2 linked regions of the Homo sapiens genome follow. The protein of the gene in region 1 interacts with the protein of each later gene in a pairwise test. Each region holds a gene or a part of one and is shown on either strand. Other genes may lie near its edges. The genes, in order: CARD11 and PRKCD.

Region 1 (7,623 bases):
AAGCCACAGTCACACAGCCCCTCAGTCCCAGGAAGCAAGCCTTTTATCGGAAGGGTCCAGAATCACTGCATAGGATAAAGAAGTCCAGACACTGCCCCTCTTTTTTTTTTTTTTTTTTTTTTTGATACAGGGCCTTGCTCTGTAGCCCAAGCTGGACTGCAGTGGCGCCATCTTAGCTCACGGCAACTTCCGCATCCCAGGCTCAAATGATCCTCCTGCCTCAGCCTCCCAAGTAGCTGGGACTACAGCTGCACACCACCATGTCTGGCTAATTTTTTGGTATTTTTTGTAGAGACAAGGTCCCGCCATGTTGCCCAGGCTGGTCTCGAACCCCTGGACTCCTAGAACCTGGGCGCCCTCTTGTGACCCTGCCAACCCCTTCCTAGTACAGTGTCCACAGGTGGCTGTCCTGTCCCATCTCCCAGCTCCACACCCCCTTTTGGTGGGGATGCCCTTCCTCCCTGAGATTTTCAGCACCATCTCGGCCTGGAACCTTCCAGGAATCCCTGGACCTTCTGAGTCCTACCATCACCCAAGCTCACTCCCTGCTGCCCTTCCCACTCCTCCTAATTCTTTACCATCTCATGTGTGTCTCAGCCACACTCTGACCACGGTATACACAGACTGTGTGATGAACCTACTCAGGGTGGAGCGCTGCTTCTCACATCCCTCCTGAGCCCCCTGCGGCACCAAGTACAAAGCCACTCACACACGCCCACTGATGGATTTAAACAAGCGTGTCATCTTTAGAAGAGCTTGGTTTAGAAGTCTTTTTTTTGAGACAGAGTCACGCTCTGTCACCCAGGCTGGAGTGCAGTGGTACGATCTCAGCTCACTGCAACCTCCGCCTCCCCAGTTCAAACGGATTCTCCTGCCTCAGCCTCCTAAGTAGCTGGGACTACAGGTGTGCGCCACCACGCCGGGCTAATTTTTTGTGGGTATTTTTAGTAGAGATAGTGTTTCTCCACTTTAGCTAGGCTGGTCTGGAACTCCTGTCCTCGGGTGATCTGCCCGCCTTGGCCTCCCAAAGTGCTGGGATTACAGGCATGAGCCACCGCGCCCGTCCAGAAGTCATTTTTTAAAATCACATAAAGGATGAGCGGATACACAAAATATGGTCTATCTGCACAATAGAATATTATTCATCCTGAAAAGGGAAGGAGATTCAGTCACAGACTACAACACAGATGAACCGTGAGGACGTGAGGCTCAGAGAAATAAGCCAGGCACAGGAAGGACATAGGTTGTATGAGCCCCCTTATATGGGGTCCCGAAAGTCATCAGATTCCTAGAGACAGAACGGGGAAGGGTGGCTGCCAGGGGCTACGGAGGGGGCCAGGAAGCTGCTGTTTAACGGGGGACACAGTTTCAGTTTGGGAAGAGCTGGATGGTGGTGATGGCCGCAAGATAACATGGACGGGCTTAACAGCACTCAACTCTGCGCTTCAAAGTGGTTCAGCGAGCTCATTTTATGTCACATGTATTTCACCACGATTTTTAAAAAAATCACATCAAGGACCATTCATGCATTAACAGAAGACTGCTGGGGCCAGTGGAGCCACGGCCTGCCTATCTGATACCCAGGCAAGTAACATCCACACGGGTCCAAGCATTCCCTGGCCTTGAATTACGCTGAGTCCTGGTCACTGTTGCGCTCCTCAGGGCAGCCCTGGCCTGAGGCAGGGGTGTCATCTCTTTACAGATGCCTTGCTGGGGAGAGAACCGGAGTTTCCGCGAAAGCGCAGAAGTGGACACTTACGGAGAAATTCCTGTCCTCATATCAATTCCCGGCTCCCGGGATTTCCGGCACGCATTATGCACAGGCTGAGCGCTCAATAAATGTGGAATGAACGATCGACTATTTTTCTCCCCTTTCTGGTAGGTTGGTAACCTTATACCTTCAAGACGAGTCATAAATATTAGGAGAAAATGTTTTGAACTACAAATCAAAGGCTTTGAGAGCAGGCCAGGCAGAGAGAGGTCAGTTTGGTCCAAGACCAAGTTTGTGTGGGCAGCCCCGAAGCTCACAGCTGAGACCACTGTCCATGAACCTGGGTCCCCGTGACAGCCTCCAGCGGTGCTCAGAGCCCCCGAGGGACAGAAACACCCTCTCTGCCCCTATCTGCAGAGGGGGCTCAGCAGAAGGCCTGGTGGCCCCATCGGGCCTGGAGGGGCCTCCTGGGGGAGGTGGCTTTCAGGCCTGAGGCCGCTAGGACCTGCTCCGGGTTTCAGTCGGGAACCTGGGCCCTCTCCTGTGCCCCCGCCACCCCCTTTCTAGTACAGTCCCCGCGGGGGGCTGTCCTCTCCCATCTCCCAGCTCCACACCCACTTTTGGTGCGGCTGCCCTTCCTCCCTGAGCCAGGCCCCACCTTCCCAGGAGCCTCTGAGTCAGGCTGGGCTGTGGTCTGCAAACTTCCGGGCCTTTCAGGTGTCAGAAAAGTTTCTCTTCCTCCCTCTGGGGCAGGTGCACCAAGGGGCTGCAGCCTCCTGACCCCCGATTTTTTCCTGTCCAGTAGGAGGAGGTGGGGGCTTTGCTGGGCGGTGATACTCAGAGACGCTCAAAGAGACACGGAGGAGAGGCACACGAGGTGGAAAGTGAGGGAGAAAAAGGGTTGGAAGGGAAAAAGGGGAGAGGAGAGTGAGAGAGAGAAGGGGGGCAGGGGGACAGAGATGGAGAGGGAAGGATACCCCCAGCATCGCGGGACCAGCGGGAGCCACTCCCATCCCCCGACGCCCCCCCCGCCACCGTGTCATCTCACTGATGCCCCCCATCTCCTCCCCGTGCCCTCTTCTCTTCCCCCAACTCCCCGCCTCGTGCTCCCCCTCCGCCAGCTCCCCCATCCCCGCTGCGCCTACCTGGGGCGCTCATGCTCCGCCAGCCAGCTGCGCGGGGCGCCTCCTCCACGCAGGCCTCCGGCTTCCTCCAGGCGACCAGGCCCTCCGTCCCCCCGGGCCCGGAGCCGTCCTCCGAGGGGCGCCGCCCGCCCAGGGGCTGCAGGGCCGGGAGGGGGCTGCGGGCGGCGCGGGCAGGAGTCCGAAGGCCAGAGGAGGCAGGAGAGAAAAAAGGAGAGAAAGTATGTCATAGGCTGGGAGGGGCGGGGGAGGGAAATGCAAAACCCGACAGGAAATGAGACTAAAAAATGCGAAAGGTTAGAAAAAGATAAGGAAGAGAGGGAGGGGGCGGAGTCGGTGCTTCGGGAGGAGGGCGGCAAGGAGGTGGGGGTGGGAGTGGGGACAGGGCCGGGGGTGGGGGTGCTTGGGGACAGATCAGGGAGCCGGAGATGGGGAGACCAAGGCGAGTCTCAGGGCCCAGCCCACCTGCATCAGTCGGGGTGAGGCTGGACCAGTCTGGGCATCAGTCCCCACCCAGCCGTGACCCCCGGCAGAGTCCAGGTGGGGCCTTGGGAGGGGCTCTCTCCCTTCTAGGTTCTCCAGGGCACTGGCTCCCGAGATCTAGCTGAATTTCTGAAGAAATTCCAGAGCCTGTCACTGCAATGGGAGGGGAACGGGGTGCCCCACATCAAATCCTGCAGCCTCCTACACCCCAAGCCTCTTTCCTCCCTCAGCCCCTGTTCTGGAAGCTTCCTGGGCATGCCGGGTGGTCAGCACCCCTTCAAAGGCCTTCCTCACCCCGACAGCTTTGGGGTCCAAGACACCCACCATCAGCTTGTGCCCTCGATGTTCCGGTGAAGTATACTTGTAAGAGAAACTGTGATTTGGATGTCATCATTTTACTTTATTTTTATTTTTTGAGATGGAGTCTCGCTCTGTCACCCAGGCTGGAGTGCAGTGGCACAATCTCAGCTCACTGCAAGCTCCACCTCCTGGGTTCAAGCGATTCTCCCACCTCAGCCTCCCGAGTAGCTGGGACCACAGGCGTGCACCACCAAACTTGGCTAATTTTTGTATTTTTAGTAGAAATGGGGTTTCAACATGATGGCCAGGCTGGCCTCGAACTCCTGACCTCAAGTGATATGCCCACCTCAGCCTCCCAAAGTGCTGGGATTACAGGCATGAGCCTCTGCGCCCAGCTGGATGTCATCATTTTAATAATTTACCCCAAATGGCCATCGTCATGGGTGGGATGGTCCCAAGGGTTTACATGGATTGCAGACTCAAAAATCTGGATGAAAGAAAATGTGATACACACACACACGCCATGCAATACTACTCAGCCATAAAAAAGAACGAAATAAAGTATTTTGCAGCAACTTGGATGGAACTGGAGGCCATTATCCTAAGTGAAGTAACTCAGGAGTGGAAAACCAAATACTACATGTTCTTATTTAAAAGCGAGAGCTAAGCTATGGGTAGGCAAAGGCAGGCAGAGTGGGATCATGGACGTTGGAGACTCAGAAGGGGGAAGAATGGGAGGGGGTAGGGGATGAAAAATCACCTATTGGGTACAATGTATACTGTACAATGTGCACTATTCCAGTGACTGATGCACTAAAAGCCCAGACTTCACCACTATACGCTTCATCCACGTAACCCAAAACCGCAAGTACCCCTAAAGCTATTGAAATAAAAATCTGGATGAGCCATGCCTACCCAGAAAACCTTAGTTTCTATTCTCTTGCTGCAATTGCACTGCCTCCTGCACCGCCCGCCCCCCCGTTGCCCCAGCCTCTGCACCTCTCATTCTACTCTGCCTCAGTTTACCATTCTCCTCTCATCTATCTCCCTCTCTTTTGATCCCCTCATTATGGCTAGAGAATGTAGGCTTCTGTTTCATGTTTTAAGTGTTCTGAGAAAAGTTCCTCGAGCTGCTAGAAGGAAAGGCCTTCAATAAATTAAATTTTCAGCAAGACAATAAATAAAAAATGGGACATTGGTCCAAGCACGGAAGAATCTGAAATACCAGTGAGGAGTCTGTTTGCACTGATGCACATGTGCTAGGGATGAAGGAAGACACGAGTTTGCTTCCTGTAAAGCGTGTTCAGAAATGCAAGCAAGGGCCGTAAAGAAAGTTTCTAAAATGAACACCAAGACCCACAGCCTTCTAACACCAAGACCCACAGCCTTCTAGGCCTTGGTCCCTAAGGATACATCTCACTGCCTACCTGGGACTGGGGAAGCTGCTTGTACTCCATGAAACCTCTAAATCAGGCAGTGGCATTTTATTTATTTATTTATTTATTTGGGATGGAGTCTCACTCTGTTGCCCAGGCTGGAGTGCAGTGGCACGATCTCGGCTCACTGCAACCTCCACCTCCCGGGTTCAAGTGATCGTCCTGCCTCAGCCTCCTGAGTAGCTGGGATTACAGGCACGCACCACCACACCTGGTTAATTTTTGTATTTTTAGTAGAGATGGGGTTTTACCATGTTGGTCAGGCTGGTCTCTAACTCCTGACCTCATGATCCGCCCACCTCGGCCTCCCAAAGTGCTGGGATTACAAGTGTGAGCCCATGCGCCCGGCAAGCATTTTATTTTATTTCATTTTATTATTTTTGAAACAGGGTCTCGCTCTGCTGCCCAGGTTGGAGTACAGTGGCTTGATCAAGGCTCACTGCGGCTTTGACCTCCTTGGCTCAAGCCATCCTCCCGCCTTGGCCTCTCGAGAAGCTGGGACTACAAGTGCACGCCACCACGCCTGGCTAATTTTTTAATTTTCTGTAGAGATGAAGTCTCACTATGTTGCCCAGGCTGGTCTTGAACTCCTGACCTCAAGTGATCCTCTCGCTCAGGCCTCCCAAAGTGTCAGGATTACAGACATGAGCCACGGCATCTGGCCTGTCATTTTAAAGAAGAGCTCAGATTTCCCTCCTGCAAGATACGAAATGAGGGCAGTGCCTTAAAACAATGAAACATGTCTGTAGAGATATGTATGCAGTAAAGTACACAAATGCTGCAAAGTCCCATGAATTTTTGCAGCAACTTGGATGGAACTGGAGGCCATTATCCCAAGTGCGAGTGTAACCCACACCCGCACTTCATTCTATCAAAACATGGAACTTTATCTGCACCCCAGAAACCCCCTTGTGTCTCGTTTCAGTCACTCCGCCACCAAGGGTAGGCACATTCCTGCCTCTGACAGCATCAGTCAGTTTGCCTGTTTGTGAACTGCATGTAAACGGCAGCATGCATGCGTTCTTTCGGCAGCCTGGTCCCTTTCACTCAGCGTTATGTTTCTGACTTTTATAGATGGGACTGCATGCGGGTCTAGTTCATTAAGACAAGCCTGTTTCTCCTCCAATATCTTATTAAAAATTTTAAATGTTCAGAAAAGTTAGAAGAACCATCTAGTGAATCCGCATATACCCCACCACTTGATTCTACAACTAGCATTTTGCTATATTGGCTTTATCACAGATCTATCCATCTATCTCTCCATCAATCCTCTCGTCCTTTTTGTTTTTTTTGTTTTTTTTTTTTTTTTTGAGACAGAGTCTCACTCTGTCACCCAGGCTGGAGTACAGTGGCACGATCTCGGCTCACTGCAAGTTCCGCCTCCCGGGTTCATGCCATTCTCCTGCCTCAGCCTCCCAAGTAGCTGGGACTACAGGCGCCCGCCACCATGCCTGGCTAATTTTTTGTATTTTTAGTAGAGAGGAGGTTTCACCGTGTTAGCCAGCATGGTCTCGATCTCCTGACCTCGTGATCCACCCGCCTCGGCCTCCCAACCTCCTGTCCTTTTTTCTGGGTGTATTTCAAAGTAAGTTGCAGACATCATCAGTACACGTCACTGTTAAACACTCCATCATGCATGCCATTCACTAGAGAGGTTTGTTTAGGTGAAATTTACAAACAGATTTTAACCATATGATGCAGTGAAGCTGGGGATGGTGGCAGGTGCTTGTAGTCTCAGCTACTCCAGAGGCTGAGGTGGGAAGATTGCTTGAGCCCAAGAGTTCGAGGCTGCAGTGAGCTGTGATTGCACTACTGCACTCCAGCCTGGGGGACAGAGCAAGACCCCACCTCAAATACATACATACATACATACATACATACATAAATGATTTAAAAACTATATGATGCAATGAGTTTTGACAAATGTACATATTGTGTAAGCCAAGCCCTTATGAGGACATAGAACGGTGTGGTCCAATGTGACAGCCACTGGCCACATTTGACTGCTGAGCACTTTGACAGGAGGCTGGTGAGAATAGGAAGCGAGTTTTTAATTCTCTTCCATTATTATTATTATTATTAGAGAAGGAGTCTTACTCTGTAGCCCAGGCTGGAGTGCAGTGGTGCGATCTCGGCTCACTGCAACCTCCACCTCCCGGGTTCAAGCAATTCTCCTACCTCAGCCTCCTGAGTAGCTGGGATTATAGGCGCCTGCCACCACGCCCAGATGATTTTTGTATTTTTAGTAGAGACTGGGTTTCACCATGACGGCCAGGCTGTTCTTGAACTCCTGACCTCCAGTGATCCGCCTGCCTTGACTTCCCAAAGTGCTGGGATTACAGGCATGAGCCACTGCACCTGGCCAATTTTAATTATTTTTAATCTAAATCCAAAAACTAACACTTGATTTTGTTATCGAAAAGCTTTTAAGTACGTCTGGAGCAATTTGAGCATGTTCACCTACTTTTTCAACTGTAAAGTTAATGAAATCTAAATACAGGTCAAGTATCTCCGAGGAAAATGTGGTGTCTGCATTGACGTGCTGTACGTG
Region 2 (7,266 bases), on another chromosome or scaffold:
AACCACTCACTCGATAGATTTTATTTGACTATTTAGCTTCATTTCTGATTGATTCTAAAATTTTACCTTTAGGTTTTGTGGCATCCCTCAAGCCCCCCCCACATACAAACGTCCACACCCAAAGTCTTAGTTCAAAGTGTTCCAACACCCACTCCTGTGGTCCCCAGGTTCACCCTCAAGTAAAGAACTGCCTGAATAATGAATTTCTTATGAAAAAAAGCCCCCCTCCCTCTGCTGCCTAAATTCTTGAGTTGCATCTTCCCGAAGTAGAGTCCTGGGTCTAAATATATCCTGGCTGTCTGTGGCTCCCCAGCAGTGGCTGTAAGCCTTGACTGTCCCTGACCCCACTGCCCTGTGTCCAGGGTCCCCATGGCACCTGCCCACCTGGGTGACTTGGTTCAAGGCCTCAGCCAAAAGCTTCTGGTTGATGCCGCAGAGGTTGGCCACCTTCTCCCGGCATTTATGGTGCACATTCATGCCGCAGTCTGGGGTGAGGGAGAAGCGGGGCTGTCAGTCTCAGAGCTCAGCCAAGGGCAGGGGGCAGTGTAGGAGAGGCGCAGGAGAGCAAGAGAAAGGAGGGCTTCAGTGGGGTCTGCTGGGTTCCAGTTTCTAGGAAAACATTGATCTGAAGCCATCATAAATACTTCGATCTCTCTCTCTCTCTCTCTTTTTTTTTTTTTTTTGAGATGGAGTTTCCCTCTTATTGCCCAGGCTGGAGTGCAGTGGCGCAATCTCGGCTCACCGCAACCTCTGCCTCCTGGGTTCAAGGGATTCTCCTGCCTCAGCCTCCTGAGTAGCTGGGATTACAGGCATGCGCCACCATATCCGGCTAATTTTGTATTTTTAGTAGAGACGGGGTTTTTCCATGTTAGCCAGGCTGGTCTCGAACTCCCCACCTCAGGTGATCCACCTGCCTCGGCCTCCCAAAGTGCTGGGATTACAGGTGTGAGCCACCACGCCCGGCCAAGCATTTCAATCTTTCATGATTTTTGTTGTTGTTGTTGTTGTTGTTGTTGTTGTTGTTGAGACGGAGTCTCACTCTGTCACCCAGGCTGGAGTACAGTGACATGATTTCGGCTCACTGCAAGCTCTGCCTCCTGGGTTCACGCCATTCTCCTGCCTCAGCCTCCCGAGCAGCTGGGACTACAGGCGCCCGCCACCACGCCAGGCTAATTTTTTTGTATTTTTTTAGTAGAGACAGGGTTTCACCATGTTAGCCAGGATGGTCTCGATCTCCTAACCTCATGATCCGCCCGCCTCGGCCTCCCAAAGTGCTGGGATTACAGACGTGAGCCACCGCGCCCAGCCAATCTTTCATGATTTAAAGAAAAAGGAAAAACCAGAAGACAGGGACCTAATTCGAAACCCTTTAAAGAACATCTGGTCAACTTAAGCCGCTTTCCCTCCAGGGTCTTCTGTCTCATCTCTAAGTGAAGCAGAGGGCAGGGGAGGCCTGTCTGGGCGCCTGTCGGTGTGCACCAGGCCTGGCTTCAGCACCCTCTGCCCACTGGCCCCTCACAGGGACTCTCTAGGTCCTGCTTTTCTCCTCCAAATGGCTCAGAGGGGTGGAGCCGCCCACCTGTGGTCACACAGCAGGTAAGTGGCAGAGCCAGTCAGGCCAGTGGGGAGGGTCCACCAAGGCCTCACCCTCATCAGGTCCCTGAATGAGGTGCCCGTCTCCAGGTGAGGAGGCGAGGGTGGCGTGAGGTGGCTGGAATTCACAGCAGCACCAGCTGGGAGTGCCCCTCCTGCAGCCCAGGGGCGGGGTGGCACGCACCTTCACACTTTAATCCCTGCTTCACCAGTCCCCAGAGCAGGCTGCCGCAGTGGTCACAGAAGGTGGGGCTCATGTAGTTGTGAACCTTGAAGCGGTGCGGCATGTCGATGTTGAAGCGTTCTTTCTGGAACTGGAGGTGGGGGTATCACAGGCTGAGGGTCACGTGCCAGCTCCAGCCTCTTCTTCAACCCCTAGCTCTCCCCCAACCCTGGGCACAACAACATCCCAAGAGAGCTCCACTGGGAGAGGCAAGGAAAGACTAAGAAAAATGGGGAGGGAGGGTAAGCTCCCCAGGGAGGGTGGGGAGAGGGTGCAAATCCCTCCCATCTGGCCAAGCCCCCCAGATCCCCAGCCCTGCCCCGGACCCAGGCTCACTATAGTGTCCCGGCTGTTGGCCGCGGTGCCAGTGCATCTGCCGATGATCTTGTCGATGCATTTCTTGTGGATGGCAGCGTTACATTCTTGAAGAGGCACAGGCCCAGGAGGGGGAAGGGAAAGCACCGGGAGGGGCAGAGTCTATGAGCTGGTGCCTGCCGACCAGTCTAGCCCTCTACACAAAGCCACCGTTCTCCTGACCGCCCACACCCTCACCCCGCAGAGGCCCAGCGCTTGAGTCTTCCTCCTGCCAGCCCTCGAAGGAGGAGCCTGGAGAGGACGGGGCGGAGAGGACAGGCCAATCTGCAGGGGCTTAGAAAGAAGGAGTCCTAGTGGGCAGGGAGGTGGGCAGAAGTTAGCGGGCACAGGGCATCGCAATATGAGAAGCGGGGGCAGTTCTTCCAAGCCCTGGGATAGCAAACGGCTCCTAAATGCCCTCTCTTACACATGCACATGGACACGCCTCAAAACAGACACCTGTACATACACACAAAGCATGTGTAATAATGATAACAGACTTCTTACACAGAGCGGCTACCAGTGGAAGGCACTTAAAATACAGCTTTACATATCTTATTCCATTTGATCTTCACAATGACCCTATTATACATTATAGTTATATCTAATTTATAGATGAGGGCCAGGCACGATGGCTCACGCCTATAATCCCAGCACTTTGGGAGGCTGAGGTGGGTGAGTCACTTGAGGTCAGGAGTTTGAGACCAGCCTGGCCAACATGACAAAGCCCCTATTCTACTAAAAATACAAAAATTAGCCGGGCATGGTGGTGCACGCCTGTAATCCCAGCTACTCAGGAGGCTAAGGCAAGAGAATCGCTTGAACCTTGGAGAGGGAGGTTACAGTGAGCTGAGATCGCACAACTGCACTCTAGCTTGGGCAACAGAATGAGACTCAGTCTCAAAAAAAAAAAAATTATAGATGAGGAAACTGAGGCACAGAGAGGTTAAGTAACTTTGCCTAAGGCCCTATAGCTAGGAAGTGGTAGAGCTGGGATTCAAACCCAGGCAGTCTGACTCCAGCCTGCGGCGCCTCGTGTATACACCCTCAGGGACAGAGTGTGCTCACACCTGTGTACTCAGAGACACCCACATCTACACAGAAGCACATGCAGCCACTATGTGCCAGTAAAGGACCTATCATTGCCTCTCCGAGGAAAAGAGGCCTGGTGCATGGCCTGGGCTGGTTTCTGCGTGAATACTCTACTGTGCCCAATTGCCATCCACCAACTCCCCGTCACTGAATGCGGAGCTGGGAAGAGATGCGCAGAACTGGTTTTCCAGAGCAGCAGCAAGCCAGCCCCAGCACTCACTGAACTCAGCTGCTGTATCTACACTGGGAAAACTCACGTGCATACACTCTCTGAGCGCACACAGGCACTGGCATACACACAGGCACTGGCACACGTGAGCACACATGGGTACATACGTACAAACTGGCCTGTGGAGACACTTACGCCTGCATTTGTAGCCTTGCTTGTTGAGGCCCCTGAAAGGCAAAACCCAGGCAAAGTGAGTGAGCGGGGACCGGGATCGGCCCCCACTACCCTGCACCACCACCAGTGGGCATGGCCGGTTCTCACCAGACAAAGTCTTTGCACACAGAACAGAAGGTGGGTTGCCCAAAGAAGGTGGCGATAAACTCATGGTTCTTGATGTAGTGGATTTTGGCCTGTTTGATGGCTCCGCGGCGGTTCATCGTTGGGAACTTGGCCTCGTCCTCACTGCGCATAGACTGTTTGCAATCTGGTGACCATGGAGTAGGGAAGTCAGCCCTGGTATCTGGAAGGGGTGGCACCCCTACAGTCCCTCCCAGGGTGGTCCTGGACAGCTCTGCCGAAGGGAGCAGCTTCCCTACACCTCAGTGCTGGCTCTGCCTCTGAACCCGGCAAGGGAGCCCTCCACCCCCAGGGAGTTCTTACCCACGTCCTCCAGGAAATACTGAACAGACATCAACACCTTGGCCTGAGGCTGCAGGTCCAGCTGTTGGGGGCCAGAGGCCAGGGGAGAACAAGGTCAGTGAGGGCAGCCTGGGCCAGGCCAAACTCAGAACCCACCCCCATGGCTGGTCCCCCAAGGCCAAGGCAGCCCCCCAAGGCCTAGCCAGACACTTGTCTGCCCAGTGTGGGCAGGGCCCCGCCTGAGCCCCACTCCTGAGCCCCACCCCCACCCTGTACCCAGGGGTATTATTACATTTAGGGAAGTGAAAGGGTCCAGCCCACACCCAGCCCAGACACATAGCTGGGGAATAGAGCGGGAAGGGAAATTCCCCACCCCTACCCGCTGCAGCTCCCTTAGCAAGGATCTTAGAATGGAGGCCCCTACCCGTGTGCACATGCGGAGAGAGACAGACACACAGACACACTCATCCTCGTGCACACACGCTGCTCCTCCCTCTGTGCCGAGGGCTCCTCATGCAGATTGGACAGTCTCGAGGGTGGGACCTGAGCCTCTATCCCCTCACCTCCCCCAAGACCTAGACCTGGTGACTGATATCCTCCCTTGGGGGAGCGGAGACAGCACAGCCAGAGGCCCCTCTGTGTCCCTGCCTGACTGGCCAAGGGTCAGTACAGCCCTGTGTTAACCTCTCTCCCATCCCAGCCCCCTCACCCCTCGCAGGAGGCTGATCAGAGCCTCCAATGGTCACAGGGCCTTTCCTGGTGGAGACATCTTGGTTACATCCCACATGTAACCCCAGGGGACTTCTGCCAGCACTGGCATCCTGTGGCCACCCAGAACACACAGCTGCACATGGCCAAGTGGCCACATGCTTGTGCAGAGTCTCCATTTCAGCAGGTAAGTAGATGAGACCGTCAGCCTCCCCTTCTCCCACCTCCTTGCTGTTAAAGATCACTATGTTGCCCCCTCAATGGCTGCCAAGGCCTAGAATATATGCGAAGATTCCAAAAAGAACTGGGATAATGGGTGCCTCTGGGAAGGAGGCCTGGTGGCCTGGTGTTGGGGCAGGGACACACCCTTTCATGCAGTTAAAAATGTTTTACTATGTGCATATCCTGCCTTTCCAAAATTAAAAAGGAAAAAGTAGTCACAATAAGGAAGTTGGCCGTCTTTAGCACCTGCTATGTGTCAGGTTCTGCAATAAGCCCTGTACATCCAGCTGCTCCTTTCATTTGAACAACTGACCCTGAGGTAGGCACATTTAGTAGCGCCTTCCCTTAACAGATGCGGAAGCAGAAGCTCAGAGAGGCTGGGAATCTGGTGAATTGCAGAGCCAGGATTCACACCCAGGACATGTTGGCCACAGGGCTGGACTGGTGGCCAGCACAGGGCCCGGTGCTCTTCAGCTGTGCTCACTGACCAAGCCCGCGTGTGTGCACGCACACACATGCACGCATGCACACACACACAGACACACACACACACACACACGGCACGGCTCGTGCGCCCCTTACCCAGAACTCAGCCTTGCCATTGTTCTTCTTGCAGCGCTCGGCCAGCACCGACACACCCACGGTCACCTCAGACACTGGCTCCTCTGCTGCCCGCATTAGCACAATCTGGATGACGCGCCCCTCATAGATGTGGGCATCGAACGTCGACTTCCACTCAGGATACATGGTCGGCTTCTTCTGCACCAGTGTTTTCCCACGCTCTGCAACAAGGCCAGGCAGAGAAGGTTGGGCCATGGCCCCTCTGTCCCTCCCTCGTAGACCTCCACGGCCTTCCCCTGGCAGAATCTGCCCGACTCTCCTGCCTTGAGGGCCTGCTGTGGTTCCCCAGTGTCCTCTAGAGCACAGAACTACCTTGGGCACCCTGCTAGGTCCTCCCTCCAGGCCTTTGTTCCTGCTGTTCCCTCTTCCTCTGATCCTCTTGCTCCAGCTCCATTTAAATGTCGCCTGCCCTTATGCATTCATGCAGGGAACATGGGCTGACAGCTCCTGCATGCCAGCCATAATATTCGAGGCGCAGAACACAGCTGAAAGAAAAGCTACATCCAGGGCCTGTCCTCCTGGATCCCCAGGCCCGGGTGGCGAATGCACCAACTCCTTCCTCAAGTAACTGTTAAGTCACAGTTGTGATGAGACTGAAGAGGGCAAGGCTGGTAGTGCTACAGGGTCAAGCCTAAGGGTCAGGGAAGATTTCCTAGAGGAAGGAACAGTTCAGCCGAGACCTGAGGGACAAATAGGGGTTCACCAGGCCAGGGCAAAAGCAAGAGGGAATGATGTGAGGTATGTGCTTCCTCCAGGAAGTCCTCCCTGACCTCAGGTTCAGAGGGTGCCTTCTCTGGGCTTCCCTATTGCAGGACTCACTGCTTTTTGACGTGCCTGGTTTCCCCACCTGACTATGAACCCCATGAGGGCAGGGCCAGGTTAGTCCTGGAGCATGACAGTATCCTCAGTGCCCCGCACAGGCCCTGGCACAAATGGACATGTAAAAATTGCTGGGTAAAACAACCAGGGAGGAGGAACCAGAAACTCCAAGCCTTCCAAGGAGGGCTCAATTTGGCCAGTGTTTGCAGCCCTATAGCGACTCAGTGGCCTCTGCCTTCATAGCTGAGTGGGGCAGGGAGTCAAGGATGAGGAAGAGCAGAATCCTTCAGAGGTTGCAGGGAACAAGGCCAGGCCCCCTCCAGTCCTTCCAGCTGGGCCCAGATTCCCAGCCCCTCTCCAGGGTCCAGCCTCCAGGCCTACCTGTGCTGAGCGCCTCCTTCATCTTCACGGCACAGAAGGGCTGGTTCGCCTCGTCCTCGGCCTGCAGGGAGCCCAGCTCATAGGAGTTGAAGGCGATGCGCAGGAACGGCGCCATGGTGGGGCCTGCAGTGGGGCTGTGCACACAGAGGGGTGAGGCCAGGCGGCCGGGCGGGACCAGCGGGAACAGTCACGGGCAGCACTCAGGGACCCGCTCCCCCAGGGCTCTGCTATGATTGGGTTTGGCCCACATGATGCACACACACACTAGTCTCAGTTGCCAGTGTTAAAAACTGAGAGGTTTGCCAGGCGCAGTGGCTGACGCCTGTAATCCCAGCACTTTGGGAGGCCAAGGTAGGCAGATGGCCTGAGGTCAGGAGTTTGAGACCAGCCTGACCAACATGGTGAAAAGCCATCTCTACTAAAAATTAGCTGGGTGTGGTGGTGC

The links.
Region 2: the proteins of CARD11 (region 1) and PRKCD interact in binary tests that used the Homo sapiens proteins (3 or more experiments, as listed by UniProt).

The regions. Positions count from the first base shown.
Region 1 is NC_000007.14:3,040,811-3,048,433, forward strand, and holds the start of CARD11 (caspase recruitment domain-containing protein 11), read right to left. Parts: upstream 3,058-7,623; 5' UTR 2,857-3,057; intron 1-2,856. UniProt on the Homo sapiens protein: Adapter protein that plays a key role in adaptive immune response by transducing the activation of NF-kappa-B downstream of T-cell receptor (TCR) and B-cell receptor (BCR) engagement.
Region 2 is NC_000003.12:53,178,093-53,185,358, reverse strand, and holds part of PRKCD (protein kinase C delta type), read right to left. Parts: intron 6,956-7,266; coding exon of another isoform or gene 6,937-6,955; coding exon 6,822-6,936; intron 5,783-6,821; coding exon 5,583-5,782; intron 4,153-5,582; coding exon 4,092-4,152; intron 3,916-4,091; coding exon 3,753-3,915; intron 3,659-3,752; coding exon 3,627-3,658; intron 2,239-3,626; coding exon 2,153-2,238; intron 1,908-2,152; coding exon 1,778-1,907; intron 486-1,777; coding exon 385-485; intron 1-384.